Homo sapiens: one gene and its partners. The protein of the gene in region 1 purifies or fractionates together with the protein of each later gene. This does not show direct contact. Each region holds a gene or a part of one and is shown in the gene's direction. Other genes may lie near its edges.

Region 1 (4,189 bases):
TTTCTTTTTGTTTTTCTTTTTCTTCTTCTTTTTTTTTTTTTTGAGTTGGAGTTTCGCTCTGTTGCCCAGGCTGGAGTGCAGTGGTACTATCTCAGCTCACTGGAGCCTCTGCCTCCCAGGTTCAAGCGATTCTAGTGTCTCAGCCTCCCGAGTAGTTGAGATTACAGGCGCCCGCCACCACACCCAGCTAATTTCGTATTTTTAGTAGAGACAGGGTTTCACCATGTTGGCCAGGCTGGTCTCGAACTCCTGACCTCAAGTGATCCGCCCTCTTCGGCCTCCCAAAGTGCTGGGATTACAGATGTGAGCCGCCATACCTGGCTAATATATTTTTCTTAACTGACTAGAGCACAGAACACAAATCGTGTGTTTGCACTTACAAATTTCTATGATCATTGTTCCTAGTTTAAAAACTTCATTAGCAAAGGGGTTTATATTTCTCTTTTCAGTAAGGACACGAAATTATGTTTCAACAATGCCCAGTCTCACCTAAAAAGCAAGTTTTCATTCTCTGTTTATGGTAGCCCACGACAAACCAAAAAGATCATTTTGGATGGTATCATTGTTAATCCTGCTAAATGATTCAATTTCCTGCTGAAAGCAACAAACTAATACTTATTTAGTACCTACTATTTATTATTTGCATACTAGGGTTTATACACAAGGCGTCCTATGAAAGAACATTTCATTCAAAAGTCACAACATATAGTCTTCAATTATCAGCTACCTTTATTTGTAAGCCAAAATAAATGATTTAATACAGTCCTCCCAAACTGGGAGACAATGCTTTGAGAAAGGCCAAAGCTAGCCAGTAAGGCCATAAGTTCCATGAGGGCAGGATCTACCCAGCTCCTGTTTCCTGCTCAATTCCAAGCAGTTAGAACAGGGTCAGTAAACACTGCTTGCCACTTGGAAAGAGTATTCTTTTATTTGGAAATGGTATCCAGGTACTCGTGAGTAGCAAAGTCAAGAGCAGGAAAGGGGAGTGGGGGAGGTTGCAAAATCGGAGCGAGCAGCAGGACCGAGAGGGATCCGGAGGAGAGAGCCTTCAGACGGTGAACCCCAAGAGCTGGGATGAAGCATGGGTGAGCTACTGGGACTTCGCTGCCAGGGAGCAAGCTGGCAGGCAGGAAGTAGCCAAGATTTGGGGGAATCCTTCCCAGGGAACGAATACAGAGAAGGACGCATCTGAAAATTCCGCCGCAGCCACCTCCCTCCCATGGGAAAGCCCCGACCTCGGCGGGCCCAGCGCCACCCGGCTCCCCGGGGTGTGGAACACTGAGCGAGGCAGGTGCGGCGGGAGCATGCGCGCGGGGCGGGCAGGGGGCGGCTCCCGCGCCCCCACCCCGCGCGTGCACCCTCGCGCCCCTCCCGCCGGGCACCGCGGGGCAGCGGCGCCGCAGCCTGGGCTGGCGGAACCTCGCGCTCCGACTCGCCCCCCGCCTGTAGCTCGGTCGGCGTTGCGGGCAGGCGCCGCTCCGCTGGGGGTAAGAAGGACGCCGCCGCCCGCGTGGGATGGTCGCGAGCCCGCGTGGGTGCCCACGGCCGCCGCCGCGCGGGGTGGCCCCATCCCCGGGCAGGTAGAGGGGCCTGCACGACTCCCGCGGCGAGGGCCGGGCCGGTGGGGGCGGTGGCGGTTGGGGATAGCCCCGGTCCCGGCCCAGGCTCTTTCTCTTTCTCTTTCGCCGCCGGGGCGCGCGCCGGGCTCCCCGCGAGAGGCGCTGCCTCACTTGTCGCCTACTTTGGACGGGCGCGGCCGCCGCAGAGCCCGGCGCCTCGGTCAGCCGCGAGGGCAGGGTCGGGGTGCCAGGCGCGGCTACCTGGGCGCCCTGGAGCCAGCGCAGCCTGGGACCGGGGGAGCGGGACGGGACGGGACTCCTGAGGGCCCCCAGGCAGTCCTCCGGCCATCGAGCGCCCGGCGGTGGGCATTTGGCTTTTGTTTCCTCTGGGGCTAACGCCCCCGTCTGCCCGCGTGTCCCCCTCAGCCGACAAGTGTCGTGTGCCCGGACGGGCGAGCGCTGCCTCCCTCCACCCGCTTTCTGCCCTTGTCTTCCTCTGCGAGTTCTGCCCAGCCTCGGGAGCGGGAGCCCAGGGAGTGCGCGCAGGGCGGGCGGGCGCCTGGCCAGCCTGGGACGGCGGCTCTCAGGCTCCTGCCACCGCCTGGAACTGCGGGGGGCGCGCCGGCCACAGTCGCCCTCGCCTGCTCTCCGGGCCTTCTTGGGCCCGCTTGGTCCCAGGTGGACGCGAGTCGAGCTGGGCACACCTGGGCCAGCGCCGCACTTACCTGCGGGATTGGTGAGAGCGTTTTCGCGAGGTCGCAAATTCCGGGTGGGTATTGTCCCCTGCTTTTGATCTCCCTTAGTCACTGGTTAAAGTGCGAAGTGTGCTTTATCTTACATATGCCTTTAGAGGGACATTCTTAATGCGCCAATGCCCCGAGGTGGAACTAAATAAAGGGAAGGCCTGGTCATTGTTACTGTTGAGACTGCTGTACTTAACAGTCAGAGGAAGGCAGCTGGTCACCACGACCCACTCGGCCATTCCCATGCTGAAGACTCGCTCTCACTTCACACTTGTTTGGACTCCACTATGACTTGCTGGTGGCCCATCTCCTGGATCCTTCTGTTGGAGCTGTTCTAGAAGATGCTTGTGGCAGGCTCCAGTTTCAGTCCTTGGCTGAAATAAGTGTAGTGTGGCTCTTCGGTTTTCTAATCTATTCCACCTAAAAAGGTTAAGGTGACAAACAGGTGGTGGGTACAGTAGAGTTGTTTTTGGCCCTTGGTAATATTAAAAACTTGGAATGCATTCCTTATATTACTACAGAATTAGGAGAAACGGTTGAAAGAGGAGAGGTTTTTTTCTTGGAGTATCCAAAGGGATTGGATTCGACTACACTGACTTGGTGTGTAATGGTTGAGTAGGAAGGAAGATGAACATAAAACTGCTATTAATTATGCTCTTAGATGTGAGGCAACATTGAGGATGTATTGCATGTAACCCTTGACTGCAGAATCACTTAGCACTTTGCTGTACAATATTGGGGTCACAAGAAATGTTCAGCTTGGTTAACCTCTGCAGTGTGCTCTCACTCAGTTTCCAAAGAAAGGGTATTGGTGGGAAGGTGATCTGGTGAAGACAGAGGTAATGAAAGTGAAGGAACTGTGTTAACTTTCACTTTTTAAACATTTTATTTTTATTTTTTAGAGATAGGGTCTCACTCTGTCACCCAGGCTGAAGTGCAGTGGTACCATCATGGCTCACTGCAGCCTTAACCTCCTGGGCTCAAAGGATCCCGCCTCAGCCTATTGACTGGGAGGGTAGCTGTGCACCACCATGCCTGGCTAATTTTCTAATTTTTTTTTTTTTGTAGAGACGGAAACTCATTTAACTTTCACTTTAAAGAGAAGTAAGCTTGCATATTTTAAAGTTCTCATAAGAATCTTAGGTGCTCTGTAACATCTGTATAACTTCATTACAGTACCTGTGTGGTTTATATCTTAAACGACACTTCTTACTCCTTTTTGGTGGTAATAAGCCTCCTTTGCTTGGCATGGGACTTGGCACGTGGGTAAGTGCATGCTCAACAAATACTCGTAGGACCGAGTCCGTATGTGAGCAGACAACTGCTGAGCAGAGGCAGGAGGTGATAAAAGCAACAGTGAGGGAGATCAGGCTGACTCTGAAGGAAGATTTGCTGATGGAAAGCCCTCGAGTTCTTCCTATGAAGAAAAGGCCAACCTGAAAGCCACTTCCAGGAGGCTGCGTAGGAAGCACCAGCACCCAGTCTGACCAAGGAAGCAGAAGCTTCAATCCCTCCTCCCCCCATCACTCCTTCAAGTGGGTTAAGTTTTCTGTTCTCCAGAGAGCCGAAGGAGGGTCTGAAAATCGCCATTAGATAAGTGTTCATTCTTTCAGTTAATTATTATAATTAAGAAAGAATGCTGCTGCTGGTGAAGTGGGGGAGTGAGCAGGAGAGGTAGGTTTGGTGGGCTGGAGGCAGGGTGGAAAGGATAAATTCCATTTATACAACACTGGATTGAGAAAACCAAAGACTGCACGTTCTCACTTACAAGTGGGAACAAAATGATAAGCACACATGGACACATAAAGGGGAACAACATACACTGGGACCTATCGAAGGATGGGAGGAGGGAGGGGATCAGGAAGAATAACTAATGGATACTAGGCT
Region 2 (3,517 bases), on another chromosome or scaffold:
ATTTCCGAACCGTGGGATTTGAGGAGCAAGCTAGTGCTTTTCAGGAACAGGTAACTTGGTCTAGAGAAACACGTGATGAACATGTGATGAACCCACAGTTACCTCCCTTCCCAACAGTGGGCAGAAGGGAGTGAGGAGGAAGAGGACCAAAGAGCAGGGAGGAATCAGTGAGGCTCTGAGAAACTGAGGGGAAGGAGAATGGATGTACCAGGTGAATTATCCCTTTGTGCAAGGGGAAAACTCAAAGCCGGAGACAGTGGCAGCTGTGGAGAAGAAGGCTAAAGCTCATTTACATCTGTGTCCTCTGAAAGACTGATCATACTCAAGGGTGGAGTGAATCAGCCCTACCTTCAATGAAAACACACTAGAAAGCAGGAAACAGAAAAGAAAGGAAAAGCAGGGACAAACCTGACTGAGAGACATACACCACCTCCTACTACTGGCCTCAGCACCCAATGGACTATTAAGCCCTTTGCAGTTTGCTTTCTGGGTGCTTAGCAAGGTAGAGTGGAAAAAGCACAGGATTGATAGTCGAATCCTGGTTCTTCTATCTCTATGTGACCCTAGGCACGTTACTATGTCTCTCTGAGTCTTGGTTTCATATCTATAACATCAGACTGTCAATAACTTTATAGGGATGTTGTTGTGAGGATTAGTGGACAATATACACACAGTGCCTATGATAGGTTCTGGCATAGTGTTGATACTCAAAAAATGGGATTTCCTTTTCCTCAGGTCCAGGGATGGTATTAGAAAGAGGGAGAAAGTGGCAGGAGTCCATCCCAATTGTCTAGGTGATTCATAGCTCCATGTTGCAGGCTGTGCTAGGTTTGCAGGGTTGGTCTTCAAGGGGCTTTGACCTGAGGAGGCAAGTGGGGGCAACACAGTGTGGTTCACACCAGGCCAGTTCTGTGGGTAAACACAGAGTTCCTATTTCTCTACCAACGAAGGCTGCAGTTTTCTAAGCATTACATTTTCTTTTCTAATATCATAATATTGTAGGGAGAATTAAAAACTGAAAAATGTGTCTGGCTGCTTGTTCCATATCCCTTCAGCCATTGTTCATTCTCTCAAACTATTAGCTGTATGGCCTGAGTTTGGATAAGGTAAACTTTTCTAAAATTGCACACGCCAATTTCTAGATTTCCTTCAACCTATATTTACTTCAGACTTGATCTTTGTACATAAGTATTTTTTTCCTAATTTGGAAAACTTGCTAAAATAGCAGCTTAAATTTCTTCATACCTACCAGAAGAGCTAAAATGAGAAAGGTTGATAATATTAAACATTCACGAGGATGTGGAGCAACTGGAACTCTTTTGTTGTTGGTGAGACTGTGAAATCAACATTCAGACATCTACCCCTTGATGCAGCAGTTTTACTCCTGGGTATTTACCCAAGGGAAATGAAAACACATGTCTGTAAAAAGATTTGTACAAAATTGTTCTTACTAGCTTTATCACAATGGTCAAAAATTTGAAGCCTAGGTGTACATCAATAGGAGAATGAATACACAAACCGTGATATATTCATACAGTGGAATACTCCACAGTAATAAAAAGGAATGAACTACTGTTATGTGCAGCCATTTGCATGAGTCTCAAAAACATATTACTGATTGAGAGAAACCTTACATAACTGAGTTCATACTGAATGGTTCCATTTAGATAAGGTTTCAGAACAGGAAAATCAATCAGTGGTAAAAAAACAATCAGAACAGGGGTTGCCTCTGGCTGCGTGGGGGTGGAAAACGACTGGGAAGGAGTATGAGGGAAATTTCTGGGTGATGGTAACATTCTGTATCTTGATACAGGCTTGGGTTACAGGTATGCATGGGTCACTGCTTGCTAATACACAGGCATATGCAAATGATTCAGGTTTGTGCATTACAGAACATACACATTTTACTTCAAAAAGAAAAGAACTATGAAAAACACCTAAACAGTGGTATAAAAACAGAAGTGTTTAGGGTAAAGTATACTGATATATACAAGTCAATTTAAAATGCATCAAACATATGCATTGGCAATTAAATAGAAGGGTGACTATGTGGACATATATGTGGTAAAGCAAGTACAGGAAATGTTAATTGTAGCATCTAGGTGTTCAGAATATGGGTATTTACTATAAAACTCTGATGAGTTTTCTTTATGTTTGAAAAACTTTTATGAATTGTGATGGAAAAAACTGCTCAGGTTGGAAAGTGGAAGGCCGCTGATCAGCTGGAACATATTTTATTTTGTTTTTCACTGGTACAATGTCCATTTGTGTCACAGCAATTGAATAGCACTCTTCTAAAATTAAATGTAGATAATATTGTAAATGGTTAACAAAAAAATACTTAGCTAAAAGGTCTCTTGGCCAGATTCCCAGCTGACCAAAAGCCCTTTGCAGGTTGAGCTTTTGCTCAGACTCCTTGGAGGCAGACATCCCAGACTGGGGGCACACGATGGTCTCTGGACCTTCCAGGTTCTGTGACTTACCTCAGAAATGGGACTGCCAGCTCTGAGCCTGGCCCACGAGCAGGCACTTTCTCCCATGGATGATCTCATTCTGTCCCAATGGACACTGGGAACCATAATGGGAATAAACTCTTCTAAAGCATTTCATTCAGAAATCCTTCAAGGGAGAAGTGAGCATCGTCTTGCTACTATGTTCAACCTGCCAACTCGGAAGCCTGAGAAATGAATTCTCAAAGGATCAGAGTTTTGCAAGCATGGTCCAGAAGCTTGAGTTTCTTCATTCTCATGGAAGGGTGATTGGGTCAGGGAAGAGTCTGCCTTGAATTTGTCTCTGGCAGTGATTCAAATATCGTTTCTCCTTTTCCCATTAAAGGACTGGAGGGCAGGGAGGGAATCACTGGCCAGGCTTAGGATGGTAAGATAAGTCGCTGCTGTGATATTCATGAGGACTGAGGATTGGATCCTCTACCATGTTAACCTGCCTCTTCCATCATCACACTACAGAGGGCATCAGCATTTTACCTCTGGAGTCTTCCTGGCAATGAACCTAGTTGGTTAGCACCCACTCATCATCCTGATTAGAAAATGCAGGCCTTCTCCAGCCCAAGCACATGGCCCTTCCAAGGTACATGCAGGTACATGCAAGGTCACAGCGCTGAGAAACAATTAGAACAACTGCCTCCTTAAACTCTCCTCAGGAAAGCTTTGCCCTTCCACTTGACAGAAGCAGGACAGGGATGGAGAGCATCCCCTAAACCACTTTTGAAAAGGGCAAGTCCAGAAAGGGCAGCACGGTTGCCAGTGATGTGGGGAGCTTATTGTTTCATGGCTATTATGAGCTGAATGTTTATGTGCCCCCAAAACTCTTATGTTGAAAACCTAACCCACAGTGAGGATATTAGGAGGTGGGATCTTTGGGAGGTAATTAGGTTTAGATGAGGTCATGAGGATGGAACCCCCATGATGAGATCAATGCTCTTATAAGAAGAGAACAAGACACCAGAGAGCTTACTCTCAGGTGTAAGGATACAGCAAGAAGACAGCCTTCTACAAGC
Region 3 (3,517 bases), on another chromosome or scaffold:
TGAGCCACACCGCACCCGACCCAAAGAGCTTTTTTAAAAATATATTTAGCCTGTCCCTCAGCAATTCTGATTCAGGAAGCGAGAGAGCAAAGCTTGGAAATCTGCATTTTCACACTGCCCTGGTTGCTGCTGGTGAACCATCAGCATCATGGACGAGTATCTTCCTCTACAGACAGTCAGGCTGAAGTCAGGGACATAAGATAACCTGTCACCAAGTCCCTAATCTCCTGCCCAGTCATCATCGTTTAAATGTGTAACCAAAAAGAGCCATTAAAAAAACAAGGAACTTTTTTCCATACTCTTCTCTTAGTCTGTAAGATGAGATAGTCTTTCACAGTCCTTGCTGGAGTTTAGCGGTTTTATTGGTGGTCATTGTTAATCAAGGAGTAAAAACACAGGTTTTGATTCTTTGCATTCTAAGTGTTTTTTTGGTTTTGATTGTAGTGGTTGAAAAATACGATTATGTGTTTCCAGAAAATGGCTTGGTAGCATACAAAGATGGGAAACTCTTGTGTAGACAGGTAGGTTCTTGAGTATCTGAATTACTATATACTATTAAAAGTGTTTTCTAAAAGGGCATTTCACAATGAATGCCTCTAGGAAGATGAGGAACGGGTAGAAATGAATCTTTACTCTGTATTTTTTGTTTTGCATTTTGAACCATGTGACTATTACATATTCTACATTGATAACTAAATTTTTATACTTTTTAAATCTAATATTTCTCTCTTTTCTTATTTTGTTTTTGAGACGGAGTCTTGCTCTGTCACCCAGGCTGGAGCTGGAGTGCAGCGGCACGATCTCAGCTCACTACAACCTCCGCCTACCTCCGCCTCCCTGGTTCAAACAATTCTTACGCCTCAGCCTCCCCCATAGCTGGGATTACAGGCACACGCCACCACACCCAGCTAATTTTTGTATTTTTGGTAGAGACAGGGTTTCACCATGTTGGCCAGGCTGATCTCTAACCCCTGACCTCAAGTGATCCGCCCACCTCAGCCTCCCAGAGTGCTGGGATTACAGGCATGAGCCACCACACCCAGCCTTTTCTTCTTGTTTTAAAAAGATGGGGTCTTGCTGTGTTAACCAGGCTGGAGTGCAGTGGTGCAATCCCAGTGGCCTAGAACTCCTGGGCACAGGTGATCCTCTGCCTCAGCCTCCCACGTAGCAGGGACTACAGGCACATGCCACCAAGCCTGGCTTTAAATCTATTAATAACATTTCTATGATGATAAAACTAGAGCAGACTGCTTCACTATAAGCATTTTTTTTTTTCTTTTTTCTTTTTTCGTGGTGGAATCTCACTCTTGCCCAGGCTGGAGTGCAGTGGCTCAATCCTGGCTCACTGTAACCTCTGCCTCCTGGGTTCAAATGATTCTTGTGCCTCAGCCTCCCTAGGTGGGATTACAGGCATCCACCAGCATGCCCGGCTCATTTTTGTATTTTTAGTAGAGGCAGGGTTTCACCATGTTTGCCAGGCTGGTCTCGAGCTCATGACTTGAAGTCATCCACCTGCCTCAGCTTCCCAAAATGCTGGGATTACAGGTGTGAGCTGCCACGCCTGGGCACTATAAGCATTTTTAAGAGGTACTGTGTAGCTCTTAGTAGTAGTAAGATCATTCTATTCAGACATAAGAGAATGCCGAAGTGGAACAAATATATTGTCTGTCAATATCTGGAGATATTTTAATTGAATAAAAGTGGCAGCAGTAAGCTCTTTGGACCTTACAGGAAGCATTTGAACAATAATGAGTACAAAAATCTTGGGTGATGAAGCAGAAAATGCTTTTGACTAAAGCTTTTCTGGCTTGCCTAATGCTTTTGACCAGAGAAATAAGAGAAGGAATTAAACAGACAGTGGGGCATGTCACCATCACTGCTACATCAGCCTACTGATTTTCAGCAATCGTGGCTGAAGACCCTGGGTTTGCTATGAAGCTGTTTTGAAAATGCTCCTGCTAAATCAAGTAACTCAAGTATTTTCTTCATCTAGAATATTCAAAGTCATCTGGGTGAGGCCCTAATCCAAGATTTAATCAACTACTGTCTGAGCTACATTGCGAAAATTAAACTCCCGAAGAAGAGGTGGGTTTGCTTTTAACAAAGAGGCGTCACAGGAACATAGCGTAGTGTCACATGGTGGGCTAATGTGGGCATTCTCCAAATAGGATTATAAAAATCACCTAAAGAGTTTTAAAAACAAAGTCTGATATTTAGCCCGCCCCTTGGCAATTCTGGTTCAGAAAGCCTGAGAGCCGAGCTTGGAAATCCACATTTTCTCTGGCTGCCCTGGTGCTGCTGGTTCACAGCAGGGTTCAGTAGCCACCATGGGCCAGCGAATTTAAATCCGAATCCCAGCACTTAGTAAGGAATAATTGGAAACAGTCCACAAAGCCAACAGTACAAGAATGATTACGTAAATGATGGCTTATCCACATGATGGAAATTTATACAACCATTGAAGACCATATGCTTTCAAAGGCTGTCAGTGAGAGGAAACAGCAGTGAAGCAGCATGTACAAAAAGCAACAGAAACCCTAGATCGGGAAGTCTGAGACAGGAAGCCTTCGGGCCAGATCCACGTAAAACCCAAATCTGGTTGGCCTGCAGTGTTAAAGAAAATCGGATTAATTGCCATCATGTAAAAGTCTGATTTTATGTTTGTTTTATTTATTTATGAATTTATTTTTGAGACCGAGTCTCACTCTGTGGCCGAGGCTGGAGTGCAGTGGCAGGATCTCACAGCTCACTGCAACCTCCGCCTCCCAGGTTCAAGCAATTCTTCTGCCTCAGCCTCTCGAGTAGCTGGGATTATAGGCGCACACCACCATGCCCAGCTAATTTTTTTTTTTTTTTGTATTTTTAGTAGAGATGGCATTTCACTCTGTTGGCCAGGCTGATATCGAACTCCCAACCTCAACTGATCCACCCACCTTGGCCTCCCAAATTGCTGGTGTCAAAGGCGTGAGCCACCTTGCCCAGCCTGATTTTATGTTTTAAACATCTGGATTTCTGGCTTCTGTTGGCAAATCTGAGACCTGGCTACTCCGGCTCCCAGTTCCCTGCCGGCAGGTGCCACCTGAGCAGCTGCCACCTGACTCATGGACATTTGTTCCAGTCACAGACTGCTTCTCTCATTTTCTGTCTCCCTAGGCTTTCTTTTTGTTTTTTGTTTTGTTTTGTTTTTTGAGAGAGAGGATCTCGCCCTGTTGCCCAGGCTGGAGTGCAGTGGCATGATCATAGCTCACTGCAGCCTCAACCTCCTTGGCTCAAGTGATCCTCCTACCTCAGCCTCCTGAGTAGCTGGGACTACAGGCACATGCCGCCATGCCTGACTAATTTTTTAATTTTTTGTAGAGATAGGGTCTTGCCGTATGGCCCAGGCTGGTCTCCAACTCCTGGCCTCAAGCGATCCTCCCACTTCACTCTCCCAAAATGTTGGGATTACAGGCATTAGCCACTGCCCCTGGCTTTCATAAATGTTTGGTTTGGGGACCTACCTTCTGCCATGGGTACA
Region 4 (2,491 bases), on another chromosome or scaffold:
AATCCCAGCGTTTTGGGAGGCCGAGGCAGGCGGATCACGAGGTCAGGAGATCCAGACCATCCTGGCTAACACGGTGAAACCCTGTCTCTACTAAAAATACAAAAATTAGCCGGTTGTAGTGGTGCGTGCCTGTAATCCCAGCTACTGGCGAGGCTGAGGCAGGAGAATCGCTTGAACCTGGGAGGTGGAGGTTGCTGTGAGCTGAGATCGTGCCACTCCACTCCAGCCTGGTGACAAAGCGGGACTCCGTCTCAAAAAAAAAAAAAAAAAGACTCATTGCTTTTTTCCCCCCTTGATTATTTCAGTGTATTCCTAGGAAAGATAAAGGATGCATTTGATCGAAACCCGGAACTTCAGAACCTCCTACTGGACGACTTCTTTAAGTCAGCTGTTGAAAACTGCCAGGTATGTAGCCTAGGGCTGGTGCCATGGTTACTCTACCTCCCTGGGGCCATCAGTTGTGATGTTTGGTTTTTTGTTTTTTTTTTTTGGTTTTTTGTTTTTTTGAGACAGAGTCTCGCTCTGTCACCCAGGCTGGAGTACAGTGGCATGATCTTGGCTCACTGCAACCTCCGCCTCCTGGGTTCAAGCGATTCTCCTGCCCCAGCCTTCCTAAGTAGCTGGGACTACAGGTGTGCCAACATACCTGGCTAATTTTTTTTTTTTTTTTGTATTTTTAGTAGAGATGGGGTTTCACCATGTTGGCTAGACTGGTCTTGAACTCCTGACCTCGTGATCCGCCCACCTCAGCCTTCCAAAGTGCTGGGATGACAGGCGTGAGCCACCGCGCCTGGCCTAACCATCAGTTTTTCATTTACCCACATTGATATGAATGAAAATCTATCCGCGTCACCAGGGGCAGATCACTAATCTCTGGCCGTGCGTTTTGTGCTCAGGACTCCTGGCGGCGGGCAGTCAGCACTGGGGTCCAGGCTGGCATTCCCATGCCCTGTTTTACCACTGCCCTCTCCTTCTATGACGGGTACAGACATGAGATGCTTCCAGCCAGCCTCATCCAGGTAAGCCTGTGGAGCAGGGATTAACCTGGCTGGCCCCTCGGGGGCGTGCGCCATGGACTGTCCTGACCAACCTACTCTCTCGTTTCCTAGGCTCAGCGGGATTACTTCGGGGCTCACACCTATGAACTCTTGGCCAAACCAGGGCAGTTTATCCACACCAACTGGACAGGCCATGGTGGCACCGTGTCATCCTCGTCATACAATGCCTGATCATGCTGCTCCTGTCACCCTCCACGATTCCACAGACCAGGACATTCCATGTGCCTCATGGCACTGCCACCTGGCCCTTTGCCCTATTTTCTGTTCAGTTTTTTAAAAGTGTTGTAAGAGACTCCTGAGGAAGACACACAGTTTATTTGTAAAGTAGCTCTGTGAGAGCCACCATGCCCTCTGCCCTTGCCTCTTGGGACTGACCAGGAGCTGCTCATGTGCGTGAGAGTGGGAACCATCTCCTTGCGGCAGTGGCTTCCGCGTGCCCCGTGTGCTGGTGCGGTTCCCATCACGCAGACAGGAAGGGTGTTTGCGCACTCTGATCAACTGGAACCTCTGTATCATGCGGCTGAATTCCCTTTTTCCTTTACTCAATAAAAGCTACATCAGACTGATGCTCTTTCTCCAGATTCTTAGTCTCACCTCGGCCACATGGAGCCATTATCCCCATTGGCAGAAAGATTTTTCTTTAAAAAAAAAGACTAGAATAACACAAGAAACCACATTTAGGATTATGCTTCACTCAGAGGAGGCAGGCAGGGAGGACACACCAGGGGCTTTAATACACTGGGCATGTTTTCTTTCTCCAATTGGGCAATGGGTACATGGACGTTCACTGTAACGTGCTTTTTCTTTCGTCTTTTTTTTTTTTTTTTTTTTTTTTGCTCCTGGCAAGCTGTGCGTGACATTCTTTATGGCTTTTTGTATGTCAAATACTTCATACTAAACTTTCTAGAGAATTAAACTTTAATGATGGGCTCAGCTTGGTCTGATTTATTTCCTTTCCCACACCTGTCTCTACTTGCTCTAAGCCAGGCCCAGGGATTTTGAACAAGCTAAGCCGGCTCCTTAAACTAGGCTTTTCACTTTATCTTACTTACTCAGAGAAGATAAAACCTGCCAGTGATATTGTTGTGTGGCCTGGGGCCAGTGTGACTGTTCCCTGCAGCGGTTTGACTTCATGATGATTTCCCTGGAGTGTTAAAGTCCTAAGAGTTGCCTAAGAGGAGCGAGCAGCGCCTGTGCCTCGACAGCTGGTGTCTACAGTGTGACCTCTGACCTCTCGGCTAATGTCAGTGAAGGAGACAATTTTCATTAAATCACCAACTTTTAATTTATTTTTCTTTTTTTTGAGACAGAGTCTCGCTCTGTCACCCAGGCTGGAGTGCAGTGGCGTGGTCTTGGCTCATTGCAAGCTCCACCTCCCGGGTTCACACCATTCTCCCACCTCAGCCTCCAGAGTAGCTGGGACTACAGGTGCC
Region 5 (4,232 bases), on another chromosome or scaffold:
GCTTGGCATTTTCCTCACCACTGAAGAAGGATCAGCCCCTGGTTTGGTCCAGTAAGAATATGTTCTTGCCCAAATGCCACTCCTTAGTTTCAGGGACATTGCTATTTTGGTTTTCTGTTCCAGCCCAAGTGTTCTTGATGGTCGAATTGTTTGCATTGACTTTTTTTCCACAAGAAGTTGGGTGATATTGCTGATTTGCCTGCCATGGCACTTCCTTGTTTTCATTTTGATTATTACTCAAAAATAGCTTCATTTTAAAATTCAACTTTTCTGACTCTCTGCTTGTGCCTTTAACACATTGACAATGATTTTCTGCTTCTCCACAAAGAAAGCACGTTGGATCCTGTCACAGACATATTTAGCAGACATGGAACCACCATAAGCCCTGCTTGGCATGTGTGTTTCATTTCAGACTACCTCATGAGAACTTTAGGTCTTAAAGCATCGGCCTCTCTCTCCAAGTCAGCCTGAACACAAGCCACAAGAGATTTCAGTTCTTTCTCGACCTTTTTGGTGTAAATGTAAACAATTCTATCACCAGGGGTTCAGGGCAGCCTAGTTTTGTTAGAGGCTGTATTGTAGGAAAGTCCAAGGTTGCAGGATCATTCTGAGTCCCTTAGACACCATTCTCAGAAGAGCTTGCTATTAGCTTAATGCTGCCCAACTACTACGTATGCTTCACGAGGGCAGGGACTTTTGTCTGTTTTCACTGCTACGGCTCCAACCTCTAAACAGTGCCCGACATAGTAGGCATTCAGTAAATATAGTACTTGTTAAATGGATGTTATTTTGGCTGCCTTTACTTTTGCTTTATTTGTCCTGCTTTACGGAGCTGGAAATTGGAGGAAAGCCTTTGAATTCATTTCCCTTCTTCCTTCTGTTCTGAAACTCTGGCCAAGGGTCCTAGCAAAGACCTTAGGGAGTGGGGAGCCCTCCTGGAAACTAATGACAAGTCAGGCGACAGGGGGCGGGAGAAGGAGAGCTGCAGGAAGTTCTTTCCCACTTACTTCTGCAGCACCCTTCACCACCCATCGTGCTCTGTATTTGGGGTTAGAGGTGTTCCGTGGAAGGGAAAGCAGGGGCCGCCTTGGCCGCGTTCCTCTCCTGGGCCACCGGGGTCTTGCCCACAGCGAGTCCCGCAGCACCCCCTGTCTGCGCAGCACCTGTTGACAGCCAGTGGGCGGCCAAGCCCGCTCGCGCGGACGCGTCCCAGGGCTGCCCCTCCCAGAGGCGCTGACCCCCGCCCGCCCCATCGGCCGCCTGCGGGAGAGCCGCTGAGCCGCCCCCGCTCGCCAGGCGCGCGCTCCGCCCGGGCTCGGCCCACGGCCCCCACCTCCTGTCTGCCGCCCGGCGGGGGGAAGGTAGAGAAGGGGAGGGGACAAGCCGGATCCTCCCGGCCGCCCCGGCCTTCCCTCTTCACCCCGTGCGGAGACGCCGCGCGTAGCCCCGAGGTTAGCGCGGAGCCCGAGGCGTGGGGGGAGGGGACGGGGAACAACCGGAGCCCCGCGGTGACCCCGAGCGGCCGAATTGCCCCAGGCTTTGAGGAGCGGGGGACGAGCCCGAACAAGGTGAACTTTGGTCGCGGAAAACTCAAGCCAGGTGCCGGAATCCGTGCTGCGGCGCTCCGAACCCGGGGCCAACTGCGCTCCGGGCTGAGGAGCGGGAGCCCCGCGGCCTCTCTCCGCCTGCGCCCGGGCCGCCGTCGGCCCGGAGCCCCCCGGCCCCGCTCCGGCGCCCCGGCCCGTGGGACCCGCCGCGGCGCCCTCGCCTTGTTTCTTCCCCCTCCCCCTTCGGGGGTGGGGGGTGGGGCGGGGGAGAGGGGCGCCCGGAGAGCCGCATCTATTGGCAGCTTTGTTATTGATCAGAAACTGCTCGCCGCCGACTTGGCTTCCAGTCTGGCTGCGGGCAACCCTTGAGTTTTCGCCTCTGTCCTGTCCCCCGAACTGACAGGTGCTCCCAGCAACTTGCTGGGGACTTCTCGCCGCTCCCCCGCGTCCCCACCCCCTCATTCCTCCCTCGCCTTCACCCCCACCCCCACCACTTCGCCACAGCTCAGGATTTGTTTAAACCTTGGGAAACTGGTTCAGGTCCAGGTTTTGCTTTGATCCTTTTCAAAAACTGGAGACACAGAAGAGGGCTCTAGGAAAAAGTTTTGGATGGGATTATGTGGAAACTACCCTGCGATTCTCTGCTGCCAGAGCAGGCTCGGCGCTTCCACCCCAGTGCAGCCTTCCCCTGGCGGTGGTGAAAGAGACTCGGGAGTCGCTGCTTCCAAAGTGCCCGCCGTGAGTGAGCTCTCACCCCAGTCAGCCAAATGAGCCTCTTCGGGCTTCTCCTGCTGACATCTGCCCTGGCCGGCCAGAGACAGGGGACTCAGGCGGAATCCAACCTGAGTAGTAAATTCCAGTTTTCCAGCAACAAGGAACAGAACGGTGAGTCTTTCCCCCATTCTCCCCCTGCTTGTTTCTCGCTGTGTGTGTTAACGTTGGCATTGTGCGTTGGTATGTGATATATACCAGACTGTGAAGGTATCTTTGGTCTCTCATTACATGCAAATGTGCGCTGCGTTCATTGGCATGGACTGTTAAAGGTTAAGTGTAGTTTGCAACTTCGGGAGCTGCCACAAAGCTCCAAGAGGGCAACGTGAGTGCCACTGCTGAGTGAGGACATTCTGGGAGCGATTGTGAACGTCATTTCAAATGCACATTGCAGGTTCGCTCATTGCTAAAGTTAGAAGTTCAAGAACTGCCTCTAAAAACGAATCCAAAATGAATGAGCCTTGGCATGTTTGACTTTACTCAGATTTGGGGAGGGCGAGGGGGGTCGGTCAGGAAATATATCAGCCGCATTAATTGAAGCACTCTAGGTCGAAGTCATCAATTAATCAATGAGTAGATAGGAAATATAGAGGTCAAGAGGCTGTGTGGTCGTTTTTAGAGGAATTAAAAAGTGTATTTCTCTTGCTCCCTAGTTTTTGTTTTTTAAACTTGCCTTTGTACTCTGAAGTCCTTACCTTTCTGGTGGTGTGTTTTTGTATGTGTTGGTGAATGACTGCTATTTTGTGTGTGCTGGAAACGACTTAATCCTGCATAGGAAATGAGAATTACTTTCAGCTTTCAAGTGTACCTGAAATGTTTAGAAAACTCTCAGATGCAAGTTCCCTTGGGCTGGGATTGCACAGAGCTGGAGAAAGGCTCCTTTCATAAAGCCAGGGCAGCTTCAGGGTGTGTAATTTGCTTAGCCTCTGAACCCATATGATTTACATCATTCAATTTCTAAACTCTTTTTCTCTTCATCTACCATTATGAAGTCATTTTTGAGAATACTTTGTAAATAGAAATTTTATACTGCACATGAAACCACAATGTTCATGTTAGGCTGTCTAAAATTGGAATATTTAACGCCCTGTTTACAAATGGTGGCTCTTACTGTAATTTGAAAAGGAATATACATGTTTTTACTGCTTTGTATATCATCTATTCAGAATGCAAGGATTCTGTCACTTGATTAACCATGCAAAATGAACACAAGTGGCATACCTACAAAATTAAGATAGGATGTGCTATAGTTTTAAGTCAGAGTGATTTTTTTTCCTTTTCATATTGGGGTGTTTCAAGACTTCAACTTTGAATTTAAACTCTATGAAGTGTTCATGTTTAAGAAAGCACAGAAAGTTTTAGGGTATAAAAGTAGATAAAATAAGGATTCTGCCGACTTTTGCAAACGTTATTTGTATTTGCTGTTGCGCAGCAAGACATAGTATCACATTTATCAGCTAATATTAGTGTGGTGCTTCTTACAACTTGCTAATGTGATGCCACATGGCACCTGCAGGCTCCTTGAGCTGCTGATCAAAGGGCAGCCTAGGGATGTATCTCTAATCACAGTAGCTGCAGAGGTCTGGGGGAAAGTGATCAAAGGAGCCACAGCACCAGCTGTACCCGTGCAGGAAACACATCAGACCAACCTTTGTTCTTTCTCATGTAAAATAAATGTCCAGTTCAAAATATTGCTTCTTACTAGCCAAGCTCCTCCATAATGACAACAATGCACAATATTCCTGGCTTCCTGGCTTCTGTTTTTTATTGTTCCTGTCCCATATCATTTCTCCTATTGCCTTGTCTTATCAAGCCTCTCTTGGCATCTGCCCGAATCTCTTTGCTGACCTGTGCTTCTCTTTGTCCTTTCCTTTTAGTTCTCTCTTGTGATCCCCATGCTATCATCACTTTGTA

Evidence for each region.
Region 2: the proteins of L3MBTL4 (region 1) and SAMD13 purify together in Homo sapiens (affinity purification with mass spectrometry, with the first as the bait; one large-scale study listed by BioGRID). This does not show direct contact.
Region 3: the proteins of L3MBTL4 (region 1) and PMM2 purify together in Homo sapiens (affinity purification with mass spectrometry; one large-scale study listed by BioGRID and IntAct). This does not show direct contact.
Region 4: the proteins of L3MBTL4 (region 1) and PGD purify together in Homo sapiens (affinity purification with mass spectrometry; one large-scale study listed by BioGRID and IntAct). This does not show direct contact.
Region 5: the proteins of L3MBTL4 (region 1) and PDGFC purify together in Homo sapiens (affinity purification with mass spectrometry; one large-scale study listed by BioGRID and IntAct). This does not show direct contact.

The regions. Positions count from the first base shown.
Region 1 is NC_000018.10:6,412,099-6,416,287, reverse strand, and holds the start of L3MBTL4 (lethal(3)malignant brain tumor-like protein 4), read left to right. Parts: upstream 1-1,376; 5' UTR 1,377-1,487; exon of another isoform or gene 1,488-1,580; intron 1,581-1,671; exon of another isoform or gene 1,672-2,328; intron 2,329-4,189. UniProt on the Homo sapiens protein: Putative Polycomb group (PcG) protein. PcG proteins maintain the transcriptionally repressive state of genes, probably via a modification of chromatin, rendering it heritably changed in its expressibility.
Region 2 is NC_000001.11:84,325,699-84,329,215, forward strand, and holds part of SAMD13 (sterile alpha motif domain-containing protein 13), read left to right. Parts: coding exon 1-50; intron 51-3,517.
Region 3 is NC_000016.10:8,804,323-8,807,839, forward strand, and holds part of PMM2 (phosphomannomutase 2), read left to right. Parts: intron 1-444; coding exon 445-521; intron 522-1,993; coding exon 1,994-2,085; intron 2,086-3,517. UniProt on the Homo sapiens protein: Involved in the synthesis of the GDP-mannose and dolichol-phosphate-mannose required for a number of critical mannosyl transfer reactions.
Region 4 is NC_000001.11:10,418,521-10,421,011, forward strand, and holds the end of PGD (6-phosphogluconate dehydrogenase, decarboxylating), read left to right. Parts: intron 1-305; coding exon 306-405; intron 406-896; coding exon 897-1,019; intron 1,020-1,109; coding exon 1,110-1,229; 3' UTR 1,230-1,991; downstream 1,992-2,491. UniProt on the Homo sapiens protein: Catalyzes the oxidative decarboxylation of 6-phosphogluconate to ribulose 5-phosphate and CO(2), with concomitant reduction of NADP to NADPH.
Region 5 is NC_000004.12:156,968,986-156,973,217, reverse strand, and holds the start of PDGFC (platelet-derived growth factor C precursor), read left to right. Parts: upstream 1-1,418; 5' UTR 1,419-2,314; coding exon 2,315-2,432; intron 2,433-2,619; exon of another isoform or gene 2,620-2,699; coding exon of another isoform or gene 2,700-2,712; intron 2,713-4,232. UniProt on the Homo sapiens protein: Growth factor that plays an essential role in the regulation of embryonic development, cell proliferation, cell migration, survival and chemotaxis. Potent mitogen and chemoattractant for cells of mesenchymal origin.